3 linked regions of the Homo sapiens genome follow. The protein of the gene in region 1 interacts with the protein of each later gene in a biochemical or structural test. Each region holds a gene or a part of one and is shown in the gene's direction. Other genes may lie near its edges.

Region 1 (8,901 bases):
ATCATGGAGGTTTGGGGAGTTCCTTCAGACCCCCAATAAACTTGTTTGTGGAAGCCTGGGGAGTTTCTTCAGATCTCCAATAAAACTTATTTAATCCTAAATGGGTCCTGTTAAGAATTTTGTTATTTTTGTCATGTTCTAAGGCCCAGGAAAGGCCTAGGCAAAACTCTTGGTGGGCTTTTCTTACATTTCAGCCTTTGTATAAGGGCACTGGCTTTTAATATTTAACTTAACCACTCAGTCAGTACTGAAACAGTTGTTATAGAGGCCTATGCTAGTCAGACCTGTCCTGCCACAATCTCTCTTATTTTAAGCCCTCTTTTTGGTGGAAAACACCCTTAAGTACCTTCATGAGAAAAGATTTCATAGAAATAAAACTTTTTGAGATCTTGCATGTCTGAAAATACTTTTATTCTACAATTAGACTTCATTGATTGTTGGTTTTATTGGGAATTCTGGATTGTAAATGATCTCTCCTTGGAATTTAGGATATTGCTCAATTTTCTTCTAGTTTTCAGTATCATTGTTAAGAAGTCCAATGCCTTTCTCTGTTCTCATGTCTGTTCTTTTGTCTGCATTCTGTTATTTTATCTGAAGCATTTAGGGAATTTAAAAAATCTCAGCTGTTCTGACATTTTAGGATTAAGTGCTTTTGTGTGAGTCTTTTTCATTATTTTGCAAGCCATTCATCAGATCCTTTTCAATCTGGAAACTCAGGTCCTTCAGTACTGGGGAAATGTCTTTCTTTGCTAATTTTGCCCCCTCTCCCCGTCTCCTTTTTTCTTTCTATAGATTAGATGTTTGATCTCCTGAATTGATCCTACATTTTTTTCCTCATATTTTTCAACTGCTTGTCTTTTTGTTTTTATTTTGAGACTTCTCAATTTCATTTTATCATCTGCTATTGAATTTTAATTTGTTTTTTAACTTTTCAAAGTTCGTTTCTCTCTCTGAATTTTTCTTTAGAAAAATAGCCTCCTGTTTTCATTTCTTTAAGGATTGGCAGACCTTATTTTTGACGTGATTAGGCAGGGAATCTGTACATTTTGGAAAATCCCCCCGCCCCCACACCCTCAGTACTCACTAGTTATAAAAATACTTTTCCTCAGGCAAGTCAATTTCCCTAAAAAGGAATCCTCTAAGGTCTTCTCTGAGGGACAGGAACCTGAATACAGTCATTATGGGAGCTTGGAGGATAAGTCTCACAGTTTAGTATGTAGACTTTCATGTATTCCCTTTACCCCAATGTGCAGTAGGCACTTTTCTCCTAGGTAATATTCAGCTGTCTCTGTATCTTCAAGATCTGAGCTTCTCTAATGACTCCAAGGAGTAAACCTTGTTGTCTCTGGATTGTGGTAGAGTAGTGTTTTAACCTAGCTGCTTGGTGGGGGAAGTGATCTTGATGGGGCAAGTAGGGTCTCCCTACTCCTTTTACAGACTGTCAAGCAATCCTGTTGTTTACAGCCTCTTTTCTCAACCATGCCCCCTCAGAGATCCCTAGGCCTGGACCTAGGCACTTTGGGAGGCCAAGAGAGGTGGATCACTTGAGGTCAGGAGTTTGAAACTAGCCTGGCCAACTTGGTGAAACCCCGTTTCTAATAAAAATACAAAAATTAGCTGAGTGTGGTGGCACATGCCTGTAATCCCAGCTGTTCAGGAGGCTGAGGCACCTGGACCTGTGTTTATGTTATATCAAGGATTTTCAGGACAGAGCAGAGATAAATGCCTGAGTTCAACACACCATGTTGAATAATTCACTGGTCTCATGCCAAACATACAGACTTTCCTGAACTTTTTTGCCTTTCCAAGTGAGAATCTTTGGGAGTTAATCTGGGAGTCTATTTTTGAAAAGATCCTCAGGTGATTCTGATAATATCACACATATAAATTCATTATTACAGCACTGTTACACAGGCACACACATTTTTCAGTTAACTCTGAAGCCATAATGAACCAGGGATAAGGGGATGAGGAAAAGGACAGGTCAATTCTGAGAAAAGGCCGGGCACGGTGGCTTATGCCTGTAATCCCAGAACTTTGGGAGCCCGAGAGAGGTGGATCACTTGAAGTCAGGAGTTCGAAACCAGCCTGGCCAACTTGGTGAAACTTTGTCTCTAATAAAAATACAAAAATTAGCTGAGCGTGGTGGCACATGCCTGTAATCCCTGGAGGCCGAGGCAGGAGAACAGCCTGAACCTGGAAGGCGGAGGTTGCAGTGAGCTGAGATCACACCACTGCACTCCAGCCTGGGTAACAGTGAGACTCTGTTTTAAAAAAGAAATGAAAAAAAAAATCTGAGAAAAGGATGGCTTAAAAAGGGACAGGCCTTTAGTGATCCAGGGGCATTTTGGAGAAGGCATGTCTTGATTACGAATGTTGGTGGATTTCTTAATGGAGAGCAGGTCAGGGAAGCAGGAGAACCAATATTAATTAGAGTACTAGGATGGCCACCCGCTGGCTGGGAAAGATGGTTGGGAGATGGTGTTAATACATTTGACATCTAGTTTGAAGACAGAATGGATGTTTTCTTCCTTCAAGTCTACTTCATTTTCTTTTCTTCCCTCCCCCTCCAACTACTCTGCTATTTTCCTAACACAGATTCAAAAAATAAAGGAAATGATTAAGCCATTTTGAAAATTTGAAATTTGGAAAGCCAAAACAGTCCTAAAGAAAATTTCACACAAATGTGACCTCTAGGAACAGTATTCATTCAAGAGAACAATTTTCAAAAAGAAAAAAATATATATCCACTGAAAACAAACACTGCAGCATGTATAGAATAAGGATAGATATGGTTTCCATATTGCATACCTCATCATGATCTCTATTTTAGGAGCAGTATGTGTGTATGGTTAGTTATGAATTGTGGATAGGTATGAATTGTGGATTAGAAAGCAGAGAGTCACAAATCAAAGGAGTTGGCAGAAAAGAGACACAGATGAAGAAAAGGAGGGAGGGGTAAGTATTGGAACTACTGAACTAAGATGGCACACAACCAAGATTCCTCTTGCAGTCTATACTTTTAAACAGGAAAAAAGGGAGGTGGAGAGATGGGGTGAGGCATGGATGGTGCTAATCAAAAAAAGTAAAAAACTTTTCAATCATTTTTTATTACCCACCTAGGTTTGATGTCCACATTATTATTTTCATTGTCCAGTAAGTAATGCTATTAGAACAGACAAAGTTTGGTATTTGAGAACATGGAATATATACTAAGGTGACACACAGTGTTTATTAAATGTGTTGCAATGCAATGTGATAATTCCAACAGAGGAAAAAAATGTGAAACTGGATTTGCTATATATTTTTGTATGCTTCAAAAATGCAGCATAGATTTTTGCCACATTCATTTACTTCAAGTATATTCTTTCACAACTGCATTTCCTAGCACAATGACTGGCATATGGTAGACAGCTTTTAAGGTTTTGGAATGAATAGGTGAGAACTCAGAGAACAATTGTAGATATGGAAAGATTCTTGCTGATTTTTCTAGATTTGGGTTCCTTAACACAAACACACATGTTGTGTATCAAACAGCTCTATTTCTACCATATCTTTATTGAAAGCTACTTTCTGCAAATATGTAATAACGTATTCACCAACCACATCTTTCTACATTTTGATTCCCTTTGTATAAATGGAGAAATTCTAAGGTTCTTGGGAAAGGTATTCAGTCATGAAGCAGTCTCCAAAGTTGTATTTTGGCCTTACCTAACCAAATTTTCATTCATTTCATTCTTATTGACATTACATATACTATAACATTTGATGTTCACAGAAAATTAACTTCTATTTTAAGAAGTTTACTCACAGAACCACAGTTTGTGCATTTAACAATCACTATGAAATACATATGAAACATTAACCATCATTTTAGAGAACAATTTAAAAACTCCGAAGTAACTACTTTCCTTAACTTTGTCATCCCAACATTCTGGGTATAGGCATTGTTGGAAAAATATAATTAAAAACCAAAATCTCCCAACCCAGAAATCCTCTCCACAAACGTTAGTAGACAAAACACTTTTATTACTGAATAAGCATTAAACGAGACTGTGATACACATCACAGGCAATTTGCTAAGAGATTGCAAAGACAGAAATCTTGCCCTTTTGTATAGCCAAGTATATACGACCCATTACATACACGTTTTCAAGTTGAACAATAACTAGTCCTCAAGTAAGAGGACCTGACATTTGTGACATTAACTTTACTTAATAATTGGGGTGACCATCTGTGTTAGTTAATTGGTTTTATCCAGAGGAAAAACAAACTTCTCCTGTCTTTATGACGGAAGGTAGTTTTGCAACACGGAGCAAGTTGCTCACCGAAGTTACGCTCCTACTCTCTCACAGAAACTGGGAGATAGGGAAGGATGCTACTCCGTTGATATGTGCAGCATTTCAAAAAAAAAAAAAAAAAAAAGGTCCAGAGACATTCCTGACTGAGCATACAGTTGACAAGACCTATCTAGTCCTCAAGTGGATTTATACACATTTCAAAGAGTTGAGAAAGTACTTAACAATTAAGAAAGTACTTAAGTTTTCTAAGACAAATGCTCGGAGAGAAAGGGACGGGAAATCTCATCCTCCATTTTCAATAGGGAGAATTAAGCCTCTTATTTAAAATTTTTATGTTGGTTTTTGTTTATTTAGCTTTAAAACAGTAGACTTAAAAAAAGTCCAACTTAAGATTTATGTTTTTTTATGTGTAGGGCTGTTCTCTACGGTTAAATAAATAACCCTGCTTAGAGAAAATATTCACCACTCTTCTTTGGCTCCTATGTAACTCAGTTTTTGAGAGGGAGGGGAAATACCGGATTGACGCTATGTGGTTCAACCAATGCAAAAGATAACACCGCCTTAAAAAGTCTACTACAGGAACATGGGAGGGTCACACCCTCGAATAATGACGCATACCTATCCTACTGTTACTGATCACCTAGTAATAATCTTGTAGTTCACATTACTCATTTTTCACCAAATTCTTTTGGTGAAGGACGCTTCAGAAACGGCCATCACTGAAGAGCAGACCCGTTTGGGTTCTCCACGCATTCTAGACTCCCGAAGAGGTAAGAATTTATTATAGGGGGCCACTCCCAGGACCTGCTGTATGCTTTTAAACATCCATTACAATTCCAGCATTGAGTTTCTAACATTTTTAGGCAGGCTCAGGCACTGGGAGTACAGGATTGAAAGACAGTTCCCGTCCTTAAGGGACTCAGAGTAAACTGGAGTTGCTGAAAACCATTCTAAAGCAATCCACGTTAATAACAGATACAAGTAAAACGTGGGAACGTACAGGAAAAAGTGACCAATTCTGAGGCTGAAAAGTGCCTATTTTAGGGGTGGGGGCCTCGCGGCCCTAAAGCAGCTTCCCTTCCCGGAGATTTCAGCTCCAGGGATCGCCCAGCGCCCTCCGGGCACACTTAACATTTTAATCACGCCTCCGCCCCCACTCTCCGAATTCCTTTCCGGCTGCCGACCCGCCGAGTAGTCCCTTCCAGGCGGCCTCAGCTTATCATCGCCGGTCCGGCCACTTCCCGGCCGCGGCCAGGCGAGCCTCCCAAAGTTTCCTGTGAGGCCTTCGTCCGTCTCCGGCCCCATCTCACCACGGCAGCCCAGGACACCCGCTAGGGAGGAGCAGGTTACCGAGGCGGGGAGAGCGGCACAAACGCGCAGACCTCGGGACTCCACCCGGGCTGGTGAGCGAGCCCAGAAAGCGGCGACCGCAGCTCCGCGTCTCCACTCCCAGGGCCCGCAGCTTGGGCTAAGCGTGCGCCCACCCAGCCTAGGGCCCAAGTCCTGCCCCTTCGGGGACCGGGCCAATCGGCCGCTCCCCGCCTCCTGGGAGGTAGTGGAGGAGGGGGCTGAGGGCCGGGCGGCTGCGCCCGCCTTCCGCTCTTGCCCATTGGCTGAGGCCTCGAGGGTGCCCGGAGACCGGAGTGCAGCGGGATTGGTTGCAGAGGTTCGTGACAGTGGCGCCTATTGGCTGTGGCAGCCCCCGTGACGCGGGGTGGTGACTGGCTCCGGAGTCTGAGGGGTTCGGGCTTGTCAGGTTCTAGGTAGGTGCGTTTCGCGCCGCCGGCGGTAGGCGCTGTTGCCCGGGGCAACGCGGGGGGAGGGGGGAAGAGGAGGGAAGGCAAGCCTAGAGCGGGGGCAACAATGCCTGCCCGCAGAGGGGCGCCCGGGATTCGGCCAGGGCGTTGGGGGCTGTGCCGAGGCTCTTCCTCCGCCCTCAGCCAGCGCCCCCCCCAACCCCCGTCCCTGGCTGCAGGGTCATCCGCTCATCCTCCCGCCCGCAGCAGAGCATTCCTGGTTGGGGCTTGGGCCGGGCTACACACCCAGCCCCACGAGGGCCGCCCCTCCCACCATCCCGGGACCCGAAGGCTGAGGGGGCGGGTGCCGGCGCGAAAGGGCTGTGGCGGGCGTAGTGGCTCCGCCCCGTCGCGGGGTCTGGGGGCTGATGGGCGTGAGGCGGGGTGGTGGGGGGACTGTGGGCACCACCCAATCTTGCCTGTACCCTCACCCCTTTTCTCGGCGGCACTCATCTGGGCGCCGCCGTCCCGCTACGGGGGCATTCTCAACCCCTGGTATTCCCCCCATCCCTTCCTGCTTCTGGAGCCCCGCAGTCTCCCTTGACCCGCTCGGTCCTCCCCAGCTCTCCTCCTATCTGTCACCTTCTCCCGCTTTTATCCCCCACCTCATCTTTCTCCTCCGGTCTTGGCCAGAGGTGTCCTCCAAGAGTCTAATCAAGAGATAGATCTTAAGTGTGAAGCTAGTGGTGTCGTCGGTAATTTCTGCTCTGTGGTCTCTTTGCCAGTTAGAATTGGGGAGATGTTTGGAGGCACCTTCAGGGGTCATCCTTCTGCCTTACAGTTACCCCTAGGATCTACTTTCTGAATACGCTCATTGGGTTGTGTTGGTAGGGGCAAGGTACTTCTTAAACAAATTGAGGATTGTACTATGAGGTGGGCACTTTGTACGTTTGCGATTTTGCCATCCACTGTAGTGCAATTCAAAATCTAATAATTTGTTACGGCTGGTAGCCTTACATTTTTTTCCTTCGCCTTATGGTTAAAAAAAGAGCAGCTTTTTAACCTTTTTAATTCAGAAGTTGCGTATATTAATGGTTGTCTCACTATCACTTTGACATAAACTGCTGTAAAGGTGTACTCCATTTTCCTTTTCTCCAGATATGTTAAGATAATAAATTTCTCAGATGAGGTTACCATATATAAAAGTGTAGTGGAACATCAATAAGAGAATAGATCAAAACTATTTTAGTGATTAAAGATTAGAAAATACTTTTCAATTCATATGTGGAATGAGAATAGGATAAAAAAAAAAAACTATTGCAAAATCTTTAGTGCAGTATTTGTAGTCCTGGTATATATACCTGTGTTGCCCTTAAGAAGACATTTGTGAGTAGCTCCAGGTTTGTCAGTCGGGAAAGCAGAGTGTATCTTTTTGTAGTCCAGGAAAGCTTTTCTGCTAGTACTTTTGAGCCAAGAGAATTATGCTTCCAAAGATGCTGGGAATATATTAAGAGAGTACATAGGCATACTTCTGTTTTCATCTTTGAAAGACCTTTAGTGAAGATCTGTTTCTCTTCTGCATTGATTGTTGACAGCATTAAATATACATAATCTAAAACTATGTAGTGTCAAGTTGTTGCAGCTTCTGCACTGCTTCAAAGGTTGATGTCTTTAGTTCAGAAGAAATAATTCAAGCTTTGGTAGACAAATCATTTACATTTCATCTTCGATGTAGATGTTACTGTAACTCTGGACCGTGAACATTTCAAATTTGCCAGTTTTTTCTCAACTATTTTACTATGAAAAATTTCAAACAATGCAGAAGAGTCGAGTTGAACCCACCACCTATATATTTAGCAATAACGATTTCAAGACCACTGTTACACAGTAAACATTAAGGAATAGAGGAACTGAAATGATCAAGCTTAAAAAACCAGCGTATGTGGCCGGGCGCGGTGGCTCATGCCTGTAATCCCAGCACTTTGGGAGGCCGAGGCGGGCGGATCACCTGAGGTCGGGAGTTCGAGACCAGCCTGACCAAAATGGAGAAACATGGTCTCTAATAAAAATACAAAATTAGCCGGGCATGGTGGTGCATGCCTGTAATCCCAGCTACTCGGGAGGCTGAGGCAGGAGAACCGCTTGAACCCGTGAGGCGGAGGTTGTGGTGAGTGGAGATCACACCATTGCACTCCAGCCTAGGTAACAAGACCGAAACTCCATCTCAGAAAAACAAAAAACAAACAAACAAAAAAACCACAAAAAGCCCAGCATATGTATATACATGTATATGTAGTATACATGTATATACACACCACCAAATTATAAGGTGCTTATTTTTGTTTGTGAGTGGGAATTGTACTTACTAAAACTATACTAACTTAATTACATGAGACTATTCAAAGCAATCTTGTGAGTGAGGTAGGAAGTCATCATCTTTGTAATCAAGGCCCAAATAAGTAAACTGCATTTTGGTAATCAGACAAAAGGAAATCTGATGAACTTGTTATACAAAAAAACGTTTTGCTTCAAAATTGGACTCCTGTGTAAATAGATTATAGTTTTGTACTTGATTTATAAATAAACATCTTTTGGAGGGAAGTCCAAGGGACTATCAATTATGTAAAATTTTGGTAACTTGATAAATTGGGTCAATCTTATGTCTGTTCATTTGGAATAAGAATGTATTTTTGTAATGGAAAAAGCTTACAAAGGTGAACTTTTTTTAGTAGAACTGCTTCATGGAGACTGACGTAATTAGAGAAATTTAAGTCAGTATTTCGATAGGACTCAACGATCTTGGGTGTTGTCTCATGGTTCTGAGGAATATTTTGATATAAAACTTCAATTTATAGTAAAGGAAT
Region 2 (8,837 bases), on another chromosome or scaffold:
GTGAGAACTGTAGAAGCTCACTTACCCAATGTGACTTGGACTGGTAATTAAGTGAAAAGTTGGTTAAAGGCTTTTTCTTGGAGGTGTGGTCCATGGATTGGAGTTCTGTATTATCTTTTGTGCATACACTTTACCCATAATTTCCAGGTGGATTTCTTTGAAATGGCTGGAGAACTTAGACTTTGTAGAGCATCTGAGAGTGCCAAAACCTCTTGGATTTTTGTAGAGTTCACTCCCAACCTTTTCTAATTTTAATGCTTATACCTAGTTAGCAGTATTTTTTTTTTCTAGAAGAAACACTTCATTTAAAAAATTTTCCCAAAGCTTTCAACTTATAATATCTATTCTAGAATGTCAAAGTCATTGTAATAACAGTTCAACAACCAGGCCTTCAGAAGTTTTTATACTATTTAATTATATTTCATAATTAACTGTAACAAGTGTAACTAGCACAGACAGATACCAGAATGAACTTGGTTGACCCATGATGTGTAGCAACTCCTGTCTACAAGCTCTGAGCGTTAGGCAAACCATAGGCTGATGGGTATATGTTGGAGGGATAAAAGTTGGTCAGCTTTCTGATGACTCAGCTCAGTGGAGGTTGCTTACGAGAGCTGCTACTGTATCCTTAAGGGGCCATTGGTAAATTTTAGGACAAGTATCTTCAGGGAACCTAAAGGGAAAATAAATGTGTGTGTGTGTGTGTGTGTGTGTGTGTGTGTGTGTGTGTGCTCGTGTGTGAAGCCTTATTGAAGAGTAGCAATAGACTCTTTCTTACTAGGCGTAATCAAGTTGCCCTCCTGGGGAAACTCAAATGCAAAAATCCTCTTGAACTTTTCTGGGTAGCCTACTCTACTCTTTCCTAATAGTACCACTACAGTATACAGCACTGTAAAATTTTTTGCTTTAAAAGTTTGTTTATAAACTGGCATTTATAAGTATACTTTTTGAGCTGATTTAAGAATCAAGTTTTTTTTTCTAGGGAAATGCTTCTTTGTAATTATCTGTCACTAGCAAAATTTGTTTTAACATATATTTTTCTAAAAATATGATATGTAAACTGTGTTGTAGTTGTACAATTAAAGGTTTTTGGTCGAACAGTTATTACATGATGTAAAATCATGTGTAACACTTTAATATTAATTACATTGTAACCTAAAATTCATTTTAAAACTTTTTATGTGGCTTGAACAGGAATTTTCTTATCCAAAGCTTTGTATGTATGCTTTATTGCCTCCTTTGTTATTAGCATGGAGACCATGGGTTTTCTGTTATTGTTGTTTCATTTAAACAGTTCATGAATATATTAAGCACCTGAAAGAAACTGTTAGATGCTGTTAATAGGAAGAGGAGTTAAAAACCTCGTCCTTGCCCTTATCTACATGTGTACATGTAGAACTTACTGTAGTTCCCTAGATGTAGCAGGTGCTCAGGAAACATTTTTGTAGTAGTAAAAAAGAAATGTCAAACTCTAACTTGCTCTGGAGCAAATTCCGCTAGTAAACATTGTTTTTCAAGCTTCTTTTTTTTGCCTTGCGTCCTACTTTCTTAGGCCAAAATAATTCATCCACATCCCACCTTAGCTGTTTTTTTGTGTCAAACAAAAATCTTATTTGGAAATAGCATGTTATGCCAACTGTGTTGGGGCATCCCATACTGTATTGCATTAAATGAGGAGAAAGATGCAGAGGCCATGTGGGGAGGATTGTGATCCTGATAAGAGTGGGATGAGGGATAACAACAGAGAGACTGCCGTTCAATATTTCTTTCTTTCTTTTTTTTTGAGACGGAGTCTGGCTCTGTTGCCCTAGGCTGGAGTGCAGTGGCGTGATCTTGGCTCACTGCAAGCTCCGCCTGCCAGGTTCACGCCATTCTCCTGCCTCAGCCTCCCAAGAAGCTGGGACTACAGGCGCCCGCCACCACGCCCGGCTAATTTTTTGTATTTTTAGTAGAGACGGGGTTTCACTGTGTTAGCCAGGATGGTCTCAATCTCCTGACCTCGTGATCCGCCCGCCTCGGCCTCCCAGCGTGCTGGGATTACAGGAGTGAGCCACCGCGCCCGGCCTGCCATTCAGTATTTCTAATTAATTCAGATGGGGAAGAAAATCTCTAGTGACTATTATTTTTTAAACCTGTACCTGTGTGTCCCTCCAGTGAAGGCCATTTAAACCCCATTTTTGGTGAAGTAGTTTATGATTCATTTATGTGAAACTTTTAGTTACTAGAAACACTACAGGTATTTTGTACTCCTGTGATTTTTAAAAAAATGCTTCTTTTTTTCCCCTAGTCTCCTTATATACATTTGACAAAGCCAAACAGTGTATTGGCACAATGACCATCGAGATTGATTTCCTGCAGAAAAAAAGCATTGACTCCAACCCTTATGACACCGACAAGATGGCAGCAGAATTTATTCAGCAATTCAACAACCAGGCCTTCTCAGTGGGACAACAGGTAGTTTTTAATTTTCTTTCATTCCTTTAACTTTATAGGTATTCTAATTTCTGCAGTTTTCCAAAATTAATTCCACCTTTTAAAAAGTGAGAGGGGCTTTGCGTATCAACTCGTATATCCAAGGTGAGTGATAAAAGTGAGGGAGATGTATTTACTGAACTTCAAGGAGTCTGTTCAGAAAAATTCTAAAGTAGCTTTTAGATTAAAATGTCATGTATAATTATAGCAGCTTTTCCCTCAGCAAATTTGGGAACCCTGTGGACATATATATCTGAAATTCCTTTTTATATCATAGGACATTTGTTTTGCCTCTGGAATGTCTGTCTCTTTCACTAATATAGTTCTGTAGAAAATGTAGCTCTTGGCCAGACATGGTGGCTCATGCCTGTAATCCCAACACTTTGGGAGACTGAGTTGGGAGGATCGTTTGAGCCCAGGAGCTCAAGATCAGCTTGGGCAACAAAGTGAGACCCTGTCTCTACAAAAATTTTTTTAAAAGTAGCTGCGTGTAGTGGTCTCAACTACTCAAGAGGCTGAGGTGGGAGGACGGCTTGAGCCTGGGAGGTTGAGGCTGCAGTGAGCCATGATTGTGCCACGGCACTCCAGCCTGGGTGACAGATCGAGATTGTCTCAAAAAAAAAAAAAAAGTTCTTATTTTGGTTATGGGCTTATTTGAGAATCTTAAAAAACTGAATTCCTGCTAGATAGGAAAAGGATATAGTACATTATTTTAAAAAGAGTACTAGAATTGGAATGAACCTCAAGAGATTACCTTATGTAACTCCACATATACAAATGAGGAATTTTATTTTTTTATTTTTTAAAATTTTATTTATTTATTCATTTATTTTTTGAGATGGTGTGTTACCCTGTCATCCAGGCTGGAGTGCAGCGGCACCATCTCAGCTCACTGCAACCTCCGCTTTCTGGGTTCAAGTGATTTTCCTGCCTCTGCCTCCCGAGTAACTGGGATAACAGGCATGCGCCACCACACCCGACTAATTTTGTACTTTTAGTAGAGATGGGGTTTCACCATGTTAATCAGGCTAGTCTCGAACTCATGAGCTCAGGTGATCCATCCGCCTTGACCTCCCAAAGTGCTGAGATTACAGGCATGAGCCACCATGCCCAACCATTTTTTTTTTGTATTTTTAGTAGAGATGGGGTTTTGCCATGTTGGCCAGGCTGGTCCTGACCTCAAGTGATCCTCCCACCTCGGCCTCCCAAAGTGCTGGGATTACAGGTGTGAGCCATCACGCCTGGCCAAATGAGGAATTTAAGATCTAAAGAAGGTAAATGGTATGCCCATGGCTACACAGCTAAGGGACATAGTTGAGATAAGAATTAATTAAACACATATTTGATAGTACCTAGTGCCTAGTACCAGTCACTGTTTTAGACACTGCAGATCGGCAGTGAACAAAATAGATATGATCCCTGCTGTCATAGAACTTACTTTCTAGTTGAAGAAAACAGAAAATAAGACAGGAATACCATGTACAGTTAGGTCTCTGATGAAAGTAGATCAGGACAATTCACCAGAGAGCTATTGCGGTGCTGTTGTGTATTGGATGACCAAAATTGTGCTCAGATTGCCTAGCTAAACTTGATGGTTTTTACCTTTGCTTTTAGTTTTAGTATCCTAATAGAAAATGTTTAGGAGAATGTTTAATAGAAAATGCTTTGGTATTTATAATAATTTAAAACTCAGTAGCATGTAGAAGTCAGTAAATCCATGAAAGAGAATCTTTCGTAATTCAGAGAAGAAGTAAATATCTTACTCCAGATCACTGTCCTTAACTGTTTCTTCTCATTTGTGGTATCTCGTAGTAGCAGAATGGACAGACAGCCCAACCTGTAATATTTACCATTATACCCCAGCACATAGAAGAAGACCAAACTTTTAGAAGGGACTCAGCAAAGATTTGGTGAATGAGTAATTGAGCATTCAGAAGCTGTCTCTGCACTTGTAGGGCAAGCATTTTGTACTAGTGATAGAAAAGCAGGAATTGTAGAGTCACAGACCCAGGGTTGACTTCTGGCGCTCTCATTTACTGTGACTTTGAGCCTTGTTGCATAGCCTGTTTCTGCATCTCAGCTTCCTCACTAGTAAAATGGAGTCGTAGTTTCTGCTTCCAAGAGTGTTTGTGAATATTATATAACTGGCTGTAGTGTTTGAATAAAATACTAAGAAACTTTATTCTTTGTTAGAAATAGTAAATGTGGTACTCTTGAATTACTTTAGGTGGCACTCTGACATTTAAATTAGATATTTTTTATCCATGTGGAAGAAATTTTAAACATGAGTTTTGCAGTCATTTTGTAAACACTGATCGTAAGTGCTAATTCCCTTTTCTTCATTGGCTGTGAGTAGTTTGTTTGAGGAGCAGATTGGAGAGGAGTATATAAGATAAACTGGTTTTCTGCATTTGAAAAACATTGGTGATGATCTGAGGATCAAACTATTATATTATGAAGTGATTTTTCTCCCCTTACCTCTTTTCTACATAGCTTGTCTTTAGCTTCAATGAAAAGCTTTTTGGCTTACTGGTGAAGGACATTGAAGCCATGGATCCTAGCATCCTGAAGGGAGAGCCTGCGACAGGGAAAAGGCAGAAGGTAGCTTTTATTTCTGATCATCTTTACTAGATCATCTTTATAATGTAATTTGTGCAGATTGATTATAATTTTCCTATCTGTTGCTTAGTGATTTTTTTCATATTGTGTACCCTTTTAAGATAGTAGGGAGAAAAAATTGCTTTCATAGCCATCATTGTTATTAAAATATAGCTTAAAATGTATTTATTTGCAGACCTAATATTAATGTAAAATGTAGACGTATATGTACATATAATTTGCTTGAATGCAGATATTTATTGTAAATAAATAATAAGAAACGCATTATTGGAAAGATATAGGCATGGAAATAAGGCATGTAAGAATTGTAGAAGAAAGTTATGAGAAAAGTAAAAGTAGCTCAGATGATAGTCTGGAAGGTTTGCTTTGCCCAGAGAGACCTCATTTCCCCCTCACTTTTGGCCTTGCTTTGAGAAGTCCAGAAGTTTGCTATTAGACTACTAATTATTGTCTTTCTCTACAGATTGAAGTAGGACTGGTTGTTGGAAACAGTCAAGTTGCATTTGAAAAAGCAGAAAATTCGTCACTTAATCTTATTGGTAAGATTTACAGTTTTTAGAAGATTTGAAATGAAGTGGGCCTATTTCTATATGTAACTCAACTACAGTGATTTCCAAATGGGGAAAGGAAAGAGGGGCATCTCTCTTGAGAGAGTTTATCACAGAAGCATGGGGTATTTCCTGTTGGTCAGTTTGCTGATGAAAACGTTTAAAACCTTCATCTGGATCAACTTTGTCCAATAGAAATAGAGTGTGAGCCACATGTGTAATTTTTAATTTCCTAGAAATTGCACTAAAATAAGAAACAAATTAATTTTTTAACTTTTAATTTTGAGATAATTTTAGGTTCACAGATTTGCAGAAATAGCTCAGAGAATTTCTGTATGCCCTTTACCAGCTTACCCTGATGTTAATGTCTTATTTGACATTTTCAAAAGTACAATGATAAGAAATGAACATGGTTTCATTTCTGCTAACTAAACTACAGATTTTATTGAGATTTCACCAGTTTTTCCATTGTGTCCTTTTCTGTTCCAAGATCTAATTTAGGATCCCATATTGCATTTAGTTGTTCTGTCTTTTGAGTTTTCTTCAGTCACTGACAGTTCCTCAGACTTTGTCTTTTATGACTTTGAGAACTGGTCAGTTATTTTGTAGAATGCCCCTCACTTGGTTTTGTGTTAAATGAGATAGCATCATCATTTCTTTTAGTGATTAAGTGATGAATGTGCAGGTCAAGTCTTCCCAGCAGATTCATGGTTCAGTCCTACTCTTGTACTCTAGCACAATTTTTGTCATATTAAAACAATTGCAGCTTATTCTCTGAGAATAGTAACTCACCAGAATAATGTGACATTAACTGGGCATTAATTCTTATTTTTGGTTGATTTAACTATGTTGATGTCTACCCTACTAGAGAGTAGAGGGTTTTCATTGGTTGCACATCATCATGTCCAGGGTCACTTAACAGTCTTTGAGTGCGTGGCCTTTATTTCCTGGTCCACAAATTACCATTCCCCCTTATTGTTTTTTGTTAATTATAAAATATTTTATTTATAAAATATGGATAGGCATTCGAAAACAATTCACACACTGTAAAATTTGGTTCTGTTTTCATAGTTTTGTAATTTGCTTTTTTTGCTTAGCATGTTTCAAACATCTTAAATATACACCTATAACATGATTTTTAATGCCTGTATGTCATTTTATGAAGGTAGGATGTATTTTCCTGTTATTGATCTAGTACATTTATGAAGTGACTTCTTTGTATTTTATTTTTGTGTACCTTTTGTTAAGATATCCCAAGGGAGTTGCATAACTTTCATAGGTATTTCTAAGTAATCCATGGGAAAAAAATTGTGTAGTTAATTGGCATTCAGTAAATTTTGCCCACAAGAGGGCAGTAGAGTGTAAGAAAAAAATATTTTTCATCGCTTTCCAAAGGAAATCTTAAGGCCTCAAAACTCTAACCATAAAATTATCATCTAGTATAAACTTTTAAAAAGCGTTACTTTATTTTTAATTGACAGATAATAATTGTATATATTTATAGGGTACAATTTGATATTTTAATACATGTATACATTGTAGAATGATCAAATCAGCCTAATTAACATATCACCTCAAATATTTAGCATTTCTTAGGATAAACTTTTTTTAATGTGACATTTTCTTCCCTGGTTTTATAAAAACCATATTATTACTTTATTTTTTGTTTATAATAGAGCATACTAAGGTACTTAATTTATTCTTTGTTTGAAATAGTAAATGTGGTTCTCTTGAGTTACTTTAGGTGGCACTCTGACATTTAAGTTAGATAATTTTTGTCCTCTTGAGAATTTTTAAACATGAGTTTTGTAATCATTGAAGTCTTTAGGATGATTTCAGACTTTTGTGTCCAAGTGAAGAGAAAGCAAAGAAGACATCAAACTTGTTCAGTATATTTCCTTAGGCTGAGGGGTTATATGCCCAATTACCTGTATAAGCTTAATCTGGATAAATATATGTATTTTAAAATAAACTTGCGTTAGGAGACTTCAGTGACTGCGAGATTTCAGTTGCATTTCTGCCAGCTAGTGTTGTCTTCATCAGATATGGCATTTCTTCTGATCAACCGAGTTAGTTAATTTAGTTAGATTGAAGGTTAATAAAACTAAGTTTTATGGACTGATACAAATAGACTACAGCATAAGTTTAGCTAGTCATTTTGACAGTGTGTTACCATATATGGAGATCAGACAAAGTAGATAGCATAGCAAAACTTACCCTTCTGACTGTAAAATCAGCTAAGATTATATTGTTCGTTTTGTATATGTAAGGGTAGCTTTTCTTTATTCATTTAGGATGCTCAGGGAGTTCTGTCTGTCTTTTTAGACTTAGTGATAAAGTCCTTGTTTCACATTTGATAATATTCGTTTGACATAGGCAAAGCTAAAACCAAGGAAAATCGCCAATCAATTATCAATCCTGACTGGAACTTTGAAAAAATGGGAATAGGAGGTCTAGACAAGGAATTTTCAGATATTTTCCGACGAGCATTTGCTTCCCGAGTATTTCCTCCAGAGATTGTGGAGCAGATGGGTAAGTTTAAAAAGGAAAATGTTATAAAATCTTGTGTTGTTAAAAAAATTAATGCAATGAAGAATCTCTTTTCAATAGTTTTGAAATTATTTTTCAGACCCATTATTTTTGTCTTTTTCTTTAAAAATGAACAGATAAATTTTCTGAAAAACTTTATAATACCAGAACTTTTAAAATTACATTTTAATTTTATGGGGAAATCATAGAAATAAGACTTGTGGTGGCTCCATTTTGTTTATTTATTTATTGAAGAATGCTTTTCTATGGGGCATATTTAGAAACTTCCCCTGACAGTAATAATACTAGTAGTGACTCCATTTTATTTATTTATTTGCGTAAGAATGTTTTTCTATAGGGCATATTTAGAAAGTTCACCTGACTCTAAAGATCACTATGGGTCAGATGTACCCTGCTGAATAATAACTATCTATTAGGCTGTGTGCATTGTTCTGACATTAGCTGCCGTTCCTTTTTATTGTACTGTTGCATTACCCAGTTAGTACATCTTCATACCTAATAAATGGGTACTTGCATATTTTTAAATTAAATAAGTTTGATCCAAAAAGACAAATGCAGGATATACATTGGAGTTTCTATATTGCATACAAAGAAGTGCACTATTCGTTTACCACTTTCTTCTTGAAGGTTTATTTAATTTATCTGTGT
Region 3 (8,837 bases), on another chromosome or scaffold:
TTGTGCTCTCTCCACCAACTTCTAATTGTGAATATTTTGTGAATATTTTGTTCAGCCACATTTTAATTTGAAAAAGAAAACATTTTTAAAGAAATGCTTTAAATACTTTAACGAATATACCATTTTTAAGATCCTGATTATGCCATTTTTAAAAATCAGGATTTTAGTAGTAGCTATTTGTATGACTGATATGATAATTAACTTTTTCCCCAAGAAAACAGTCATTTTCTTTGTAGCGCTTTTTTAAAAACCCTAGTGTCAACCACCTCTATGTCAAAGAGCAATAGTTCTTAAAAAAACACACATTTCTGAAATTTATAATGACCTTGTAATTTCTGACATAATTTAGAATTTGAGAACAAAACTTCCTCTTAGAGTGGGCTTGGAGAGTGGGATTTAGAGAATCAGCCTGTGATTAAGTGGATGAAAATGAATTTGTTCTCTAGAACTTACCATTCCCATCAGTTTAATATGATCTTCGGGAAAGAACATTTGTCACCATTATCTTGGTTTGAGGCTTTTGTTGTTTTGTTTGTTTTCGAGACAGGTTCTCGATCTGTCACCCAGGCTGAAGTGCAGTGGTTTGATCATGGCTCACTGCAGCTTCCACCTCCTGGGCTCAGATGATCTTCCCACCTCAGCCTCCTGAGTAGCTGGGACCACATATGTGGGCCACCAGGCCCAGCTAATTAAAAAAATTTTTTTGTAGGGACAGGGGTCTCACTATGTTGCCCAGGCTTGTCTTGAACTCCTGGACTCAAATGACTCTTCTAGTGTTGGGATTATAGGTGTGAACCTCCATACCCACTGAGTTCAGTTTTTGAGTGTTGCCCTTTGTCTAGCTCATAACTATATTACTGATATTACAAGTAAAAATTAATATGAAACTGACTGAATAGGTAGGGTCATTTTTCTGTGACTGCACATGGCCCAACCTATTCAGTTAGTTCCATATTAGTTTATTTCATATTGATAAGTAAAGCGTGTTATTATGAGATGAATCATAGGTATCTTGGACTTACTGTGGGTTATAAAACATATACTGTTACTTCCTTAATTTGTTGTGGGGAGGAATAACATACTCGCATCTGGTAGTCCAGGCCAGGCCCAGTCTTTTGTCTGTGCTCCTCCTTCCTCTCAGGTGGACCCACACCAGTTTTCTTCCGTAAGTCCCTGTATTAACTTGGAAACTACTTAATGATGTAGTAAGCAAGGAGTTTAGCAGGTGCAAATTACAGGTATTTCATAGGGTATTTTTTCTAAATTTATATTTATACTGATTTATAATGATGATTGAAATATTAATGTAACATATATGTGTTCTTTTTTAATATTTACTTTTTTGTTAAAGGAATAAGTTCCCCTGTCAGTGGAGGATGGGATACTTCAACCTGGGGGTTGAAATCAAACACTGAACCTCAGAGTCCACCAATAGCCTCTCCTAAAGCAATCACAAAGCCAGTTCGGAGGACTGTGGTCGATGAATCTGAAAATTTCTTCAGTGCCTTTCTCTCGCCAACTGATGTCCAGACCATTCAGAAGAGTCCAGTGGTATCAAAACCTCCAGCAAAATCACAACGACCAGAAGAAGAAGTGAAAAGCAGCTTACATGAATCCTTGCACATTGGCCAGTCAAGAACTCCTGAAACAACTGAATCACAAGTAAAAGACTCTTCTTTGTGTGTTTCAGGGGAAACTCTGGCAGCAGGTACTTCATCACCTAAAACTGAAGGCAAGCACGAAGAAACTGTTAATAAAGAATCGGATATGAAGGTGCCAACTGTAAGTTTGAAAGTATCTGAAAGTGTAATTGATGTGAAAACAACTATGGAAAGTATATCTAATACGTCTACGCAGTCTCTCACAGCAGAAACAAAGGACATAGCTTTGGAACCTAAGGAACAAAAACATGAAGACAGGCAGAGCAATACACCTTCTCCTCCTGTTAGTACCTTTTCATCAGGTACTTCTACCACCAGTGATATTGAAGTTTTAGATCATGAAAGTGTAATAAGTGAGAGCTCAGCGAGCTCGAGACAAGAGACTACAGATTCAAAATCAAGTCTTCACTTGATGCAGACATCTTTTCAGCTTCTCTCTGCATCTGCTTGTCCTGAATATAATCGTTTAGATGATTTCCAAAAACTCACTGAGAGTTGCTGTTCATCTGATGCTTTTGAAAGAATAGACTCATTTAGTGTACAGTCATTAGATAGCCGGAGTGTAAGTGAAATCAATTCAGATGATGAATTGTCAGGCAAGGGATATGCTTTAGTGCCTATTATAGTTAATTCTTCAACTCCAAAGTCTAAAACAGTTGAATCTGCTGAAGGAAAATCTGAAGAAGTAAATGAAACATTAGTTATACCCACTGAGGAAGCAGAAATGGAAGAAAGTGGACGAAGTGCAACTCCTGTTAACTGTGAACAGCCTGATATCTTGGTTTCTTCCACACCAATAAATGAAGGACAGACTGTGTTAGACAAGGTGGCTGAGCAGTGTGAACCTGCTGAAAGTCAGCCAGAAGCACTTTCTGAGAAGGAAGATGTTTGCAAGGTAACTCTAGTAAGTGGAAGGGATTTTTAGATGTGCTTTTTGGAGATTAAATCATTTGTTTTAAAAAATACTTTCATTGATGCATAATAATTTATACAGATTTAAAAACATACGCATTTTGCCATTTCTGTGTAGCATTAAGTACCTTGAAGTTGAACAATTATTAATATAATTTGGAATTTCTCCAAGGCAATTATGGTAGAATAAGTTGATACTTCAATACAGTTAAGCATGAAAGTTTTCATCTTACATCTTTATTTTTGAGTCCTTATCACTTCAAAATTCTGTTATGCTTATTAGTATGTCAATTTGAAAGGAATATTTTCTTACATTAACATGTATCTTCACCTCCTTTGCAGATAGATGTGCCAAAAAAACTAAATGTTATGGTTTTTCTTGTATCAGAATTTGTTTTTACATGTTTACATTATTTGTAGCAAATATTAAATGATAATTTAAGATTTTAATTATTGGTGCTTTTCTGTTATTAGTATTTTCATTCATATATAAGGAGTATATATCCTTATATTGCTTCAGTTTGTTTTCTGCTTATGTTATTTTTGAGATCTCCTATTGATAGCTATATTTCACATGAACGAGAAAGAGAAATGTCTAAGGAACAAAAGCATTGCTTAGGAGGGACAGATTGCTTCTACCTAATACATGTGAAAGGAAAGTGATATAAATTCTTTGACATTAAGTCCTAGTTTTGGTTTTTACTGTGACTTTTAGATATACAAATTTAGTTGGATCTGGTATCTTTAATAGACTTCTGAGATGTAGGATGTCTTGAAGAAATGTCCTGTAAGTGCCATGTATTGAATTACTTAATTTTTTAAAAAAGTGCCAGATTCTGTTAATCAGGTTAAATATTCACAAACAAAATGCTGTGCAATAATATTTCAATTAGTAATAGCTATATACTGTAAGATATATAATAGGAGTTTGAATTCTTAGAAACCAGCACTAATTACTATCAGATATTTTTGAATTTCAGTGTATTTAAGAAGGTAAGTGATTTCTAAGTTCATCTAAACCAAACTCAGGTAAGACTATTTTTTTGAGTCCAAAAAGGAACCCTTCCTACTCCTTTTATACTCAAGTTTATCACCATTTGAGTAGGACCTAAGGAATTAGACATTCCAAGCATTACTTTTTGTTTAGCTTTATACTGATACATTATGGAGATTTAAAAATTCTTATGGGTTTTCTAAAATTACTTTTAGTGTGGATGGATGTATGTATGAATGAGACAGGGTCTCTCTCTATTGTCCAGGCTAGCGTGCAGTGGTGCGATCGCGGCTCACAGGGTCTCTCTTTGTTGCTCAGGCTGGTGTGCAGTGGTGCGATCATGGCTCACGGCAGCCTTGACCTCCTGGGCTCAAGCAGTCCTCCCACCTAATCCGCTCTAGTAGCTGGGACCATAGGCTCGCACCACGCCTGGCTATTTTTTTGATTTTTAGTAGAGATGAGGTCTCACTATGCTGCCAGGCTGGTCTTGAACTCCTGGGCTCAAGCGGTCTTCCCATCTTGGCCTCCCACAGTGCTGGGATTATAAGCATGAACCCGTGTCCAGCCCTACTTTTATTTTATTTTATTTATTTATTTTTTGAGGCGGAGTCTTGCCCTGTTGCCCAGGCTAGTCTGCCTCCCAGGTTCAAGTGATTCTTCTGCCTCAGCCTCCCAAGTAGCTGGGACTACAGACGTATGCTACCATGCCTGGCTAATTTTTGTATTTTTTGTAGAGATGGGGTTTCACCGTGTTGGTCAGGCTGGTCTTGAACTCCTGACCTCAAGTGATCTGCCCTCCTCAGCCTACCAAAGTGCTGGGATTACAGGCATGAGCCACCATGCCCGGCCTCTACTTTTATTTATTTATTTATTTTTACTTTTTGAGATGGAGTTTCACTCTTGTCACCCAGGCTGGAGTGCAAGATCATTGCAGAATCTTGGCTCACTGCAACCTCCACCTCCTGGGTTCAAGCGATTCTCCAGCCTCAGCCTCCTGAGTAGCTGGGATTACAGGTGCCTGCCACCATGCCCAGCTAATTTTTGTATTTTCAGTAGAGACTGGTTTTCACCGTGTTGGCCAGGCTGCTCTCAAATTCCTGACCTCAGGTGATCCCCCCACCTCAGCCTCCCAAAGTGCTGGGATTACAGGCATGAGCCACTGCGCCTGGCCTACTTTTATTTTTTAAATGCAATATGTCATATTTTAAAAAGGGTATGTGTTTCGGGTAAAGAATAATACAGAAAATAGACACTTGTGTATCCACCACCTAGCTAAAATATAGAGGCTTTAAATTTCCTCTTTGACCTCTTTTGATTGCATCCATCTCCCTTCTTCTTTTGGTGTGTATGCAGATTATTCCAGATTTTTGCTATTACCAGGAAGCTACATAAAGTATTCTTATACATGTCGCCTAGTGCATTTATGCAAGAATTTTCTCCTCTAAGGTATACCTAAAAGTGAAATTTTCTATATCAAAGAGTATGTAGATCCCCAACTAGATATTGCCTAATTGTTTTCTCAAGGGGTTTCTCAACTTACACTCCCACTAGCTATTTGGTTGTATTTACTTTTACTCTCCTCTCAGCTGCCTAAGAGTTCTTCTTGTTCTGGATCTTCTGTGTTCCTAATACTGTTCTTGATTGTTTTTATGAGATAAAGCTGTTTTCTTTGTTACAGTGATACACCTGCATGTAAAAATGGTCTTTTTTAAAGCTAAGCGTTCTGACTTTTATGTATTCGCCTTATCCAGACAGTTGAATTTCTGAATGAAAAGCTGGAAAAAAGGGAGGCTCAGTTATTATCTCTTAGTAAGGAAAAAGCACTTCTAGAAGAAGCTTTTGATAACCTGAAAGAGTAAGTATTCTGCAAATGTGAATAATGTTACACATTTTCTGGAAACCTGTATACTTTGTACATATTTAAGAATGTTTTTGAAATTAAAATGTTTTGTAATTTTATCATTATTGAAAGTTGTATAGCTTTCAATTATAACCCTAAAGATTACTTTTCTCTTTTGATTGTCTTTACCCTTTGCCATTGAAGAGAGTCATTTTGCAAAACTGGAAAACTCTTTCCTTTCGTTTTTAGTCTTTTAGTATTAGAGATTTAAAACGTATTTGAAGAAAACTGTGTTAATCAATAACACAGTTGTGCTATAAGGAGCTGATTGGGAAAATGTGATACAAGAAGATTCAGAATTGAAACATTGTATTTACTCTTCTCTTATTTTTACATGTCAGATATTGGTGACATTTTCTCTTTCTAACAGATTTTCTTTGAGGTGTTTTAAAATAAATTTAACAAGGGAAATTTCCTTTTTTTTTCTTAAAAGTTAATAGGCCTAAAACTGTTCTATTTTAATAAGGTATATGTCAGAGAAAAGTTATCTTCCTTTTGAGAATTGAACTCATGTATACCTTTGGGATATATAGACACCATCCTCATTCTCAAATATTATTTTAAATTTAGTGAAATGTTCAGAGTGAAAGAAGAAAGCAGTAGCATTTCTTCCTTGAAAGATGAGTTTACTCAAAGAATTGCAGAAGCAGAAAAGAAAGTTCAACTAGCCTGCAAAGAGAGAGATGCTGCTAAAAAGGTAATTGAAATTTAAAGTAATATTAATTAAACTCTATAGAGATATAGATTTTTGAGGAGTGCATTCATCGTATTTTGATATTGGAAAAAAGAGAAGTAAGGTGAAAAGGATATCATCTATTAACATTTAAATTGTAGATTTTTGGCCACGTGTGGTGGCTCATGTCTATAATCCCAGCACACTGGGAGGCTGAAGTGGGCGGATCACTTGAGCCCAGGAGTTAGAGAGCAGCCTGGGTAACATGGTGAGACCCTGCCTCTACTAAAAAATACATAAAGTTAGCTGGTCATGCTGGTGTGCGCCTGTGGTCACAGCTACTCAGGAGGCCGAAGAGGGTGGATCGCTTGAGCCCAGGAGTTCAAGACCAGCCTGGGCAACATGGCGAGACCTCATCTCTACAAAAAATACAAAGATTAGCTGGCCATGGTGGTACATGCGTGTGGTCCCAACTACTCGGGAAGCTGAGGTGGGAGGATCACCTGAGCCTGGGAGGTTGAGGCTGTGGTGAGTCGTCATTGTACCACTACTCCAGCCTGGGTGACAGAGTAAGACCCTGTCTCAAAAAATAAAAATAAAAATGAAAAGGAAAGTTAATTTATTCTCATTTATATTTTCATATTAACACTTGCTTGTATATCTGAATTTAGGTTTTGAATATCATTTTCAAAGTTGTTTTCTTAGTCTTAGTTAACCAAGGTAGTAGATTAACTGAACAAAACTTACAGATTCTTATTGCAAATGTGATTATGGACAGCTTCTTTGGATGGGGGAGAAATGAGAACTGTACTTAGAGTGAAAGTCATTCTTTACGGTATTCACAGATTTCTTTTTTATTAGGAAATCAAAAACATAAAAGAAGAACTTGCCACTAGATTAAATAGTAGTGAAACTGCAGACCTTTTGAAAGAGAAAGATGAGCAGATCCGAGGGTTAATGGAAGAAGGTGCGTATAGTATTTGGTTGACTATGAAAAATACTGTAAGAACAGGAAAAGTACTTGCCACATAACTAGCTGATGCTTCCTAATTAAAAATACTGAAAGCAAGGAGGGTTTGGACGTAAACCATAGAAATAGGTGACAGTTTATGGAAGAATGAGGAATAAGATATATTGAGACAGAGATACGTGTTTCTAGCTTTTGTTTTTTGGAAGTAAAAAGAAAAGTAAGTCCCTGTAAAATAGACAGAAATTTGTGCTGCCCTAAGAAAACTTTAAACAGGTCTTAAGAGCCTGTCATTTAAACCAAGACATTCAAAGTGTGTAACTCTGGGATTTATGTAATATCTGAATACCTAGCTTAAGTACTGTATGATATTGTCTTTTTCTGACATTTGATAGTGAATTTTTCATTGTATTAATTTTTAAATTATTAAGCACTTTTGTCTCTGAAAAGATTTAAAATAAACAGGGTTGGCTGAGTGTGGTGGCTTATGACTGTAATCTCAGCACTTGGGGAGGCAGAGGTGGGTGGATCATTTAAGGTCAGGAGTTCGAGACAAGCCTGGCCAACATGGTGAAACCCCGTCTCTACTAAAAATACAAAAATTAGCCGGGTGGTGGTGGTGCGTGCCTCTAATCCCAGCTACTCAGGAGGCTGAGGCAGGAGGATTGCTTGAGCCTGGGAGGTGGAGGTTGCAGTGAGCCAAGATCACGCCACTGTACTGCAGCCTGGGCGACAGAGTGAGACTTTGTCTCAAAAAAATAAATAAATAAAATAAAATTAATAGCATTACAGAAATTAAAGATCTATTCATGAAATAAATCATTACAAATGGATACTGAATTAATTTCTTCATGTAATATCCTGGGAGAGAGGAGCCTTTGGAAAACGTGGTCAAGTGAATCTCTCTTTTTATTTCTCTTGTTAATTAAAGTTTTTGTAGTTATAAGAGTAATACTTGCTACTTGTAGAAAGTTTTGAAGTTATAGGAAAGTATATGAATAAAGAGGAAAAGTAGATTATAATCCAATATTATAAGGAACTATTAATTTTTTCTAGTTTTAATGTATTTTTTAATGCATTTTTAAACATATTTAAGATCATATATTTAATTTCCAATCTTCCTTCTCTTACATCTCTCTATGCCATTAAATGCTTTTTATCATTATTAGTGGCTGTATTAAAGTCCATTATATGGGTATACCATAATATGTTTTACTATTTCTAGTGTTGTACATTTATTTTTATAATGTTAATAATATAGTTAGTGGTAGGATGAATGTTTTTGTGCTTAAATCACTGAACTTAAGTAAATTTCCAGAGAAAGGGTAGCGTTTGAGAACAGTTGGAAGCAGTCATTTCATTTGAAAGTTAGCTTTATCCAACTTTTTCATTTATTCAACTAATATTTATTGAACGGTTAGTATGTCAGATACTATGTTTGATACAATAATAAGTATGACACTCTGTCCTTTAGGGGCTTAGTTCAGTGAGAGGGAAATATAGGAACACAGATAATGATAAAACACAATTCTAAGCACTAAAATAGAAAAATGAAGGAACTGTTGTTATAATTATTTTCTCAAGATGTCTTGAAGTCATTAACTGCCTTGCCTTACAATATCAGAGACTGAGGGGAAGGCTAACTGCATGGTTTTCTTATTTTAAAAGAGTTATTTGAAATATTAATATCGAATGTTATTATTTTGTAATTTAATAATTTTGTCAGAGAA

What was found.
Region 2: of the proteins of FER (region 1) and NSF, one has a biochemical effect on the other in vitro, tested with the Homo sapiens proteins (one study listed by IntAct).
Region 3: of the proteins of FER (region 1) and TMF1, one has a biochemical effect on the other in vitro, tested with the Homo sapiens proteins (one study listed by BioGRID).

What each region holds. Positions count from the first base shown.
Region 1 is NC_000005.10:108,742,930-108,751,830, forward strand, and holds the start of FER (tyrosine-protein kinase Fer), read left to right. Parts: upstream 1-4,967; 5' UTR 4,968-5,071; intron 5,072-6,018; exon of another isoform or gene 6,019-6,064; intron 6,065-8,901. UniProt on the Homo sapiens protein: Tyrosine-protein kinase that acts downstream of cell surface receptors for growth factors and plays a role in the regulation of the actin cytoskeleton, microtubule assembly, lamellipodia formation, cell adhesion, cell migration and chemotaxis.
Region 2 is NC_000017.11:46,635,089-46,643,925, forward strand, and holds part of NSF (vesicle-fusing ATPase), read left to right. Parts: intron 1-2,287; coding exon 2,288-2,454; intron 2,455-4,965; coding exon 4,966-5,073; intron 5,074-5,554; coding exon 5,555-5,630; intron 5,631-8,015; coding exon 8,016-8,171; intron 8,172-8,837.
Region 3 is NC_000003.12:69,041,077-69,049,913, reverse strand, and holds part of TMF1 (TATA element modulatory factor), read left to right. Parts: intron 1-878; exon of another isoform or gene 879-956; intron 957-1,351; coding exon 1,352-2,556; coding exon of another isoform or gene 2,557-2,565; intron 2,566-5,318; coding exon 5,319-5,422; intron 5,423-6,037; coding exon 6,038-6,164; intron 6,165-7,001; coding exon 7,002-7,107; intron 7,108-8,837. UniProt on the Homo sapiens protein: Potential coactivator of the androgen receptor. Mediates STAT3 degradation. May play critical roles in two RAB6-dependent retrograde transport processes: one from endosomes to the Golgi and the other from the Golgi to the ER.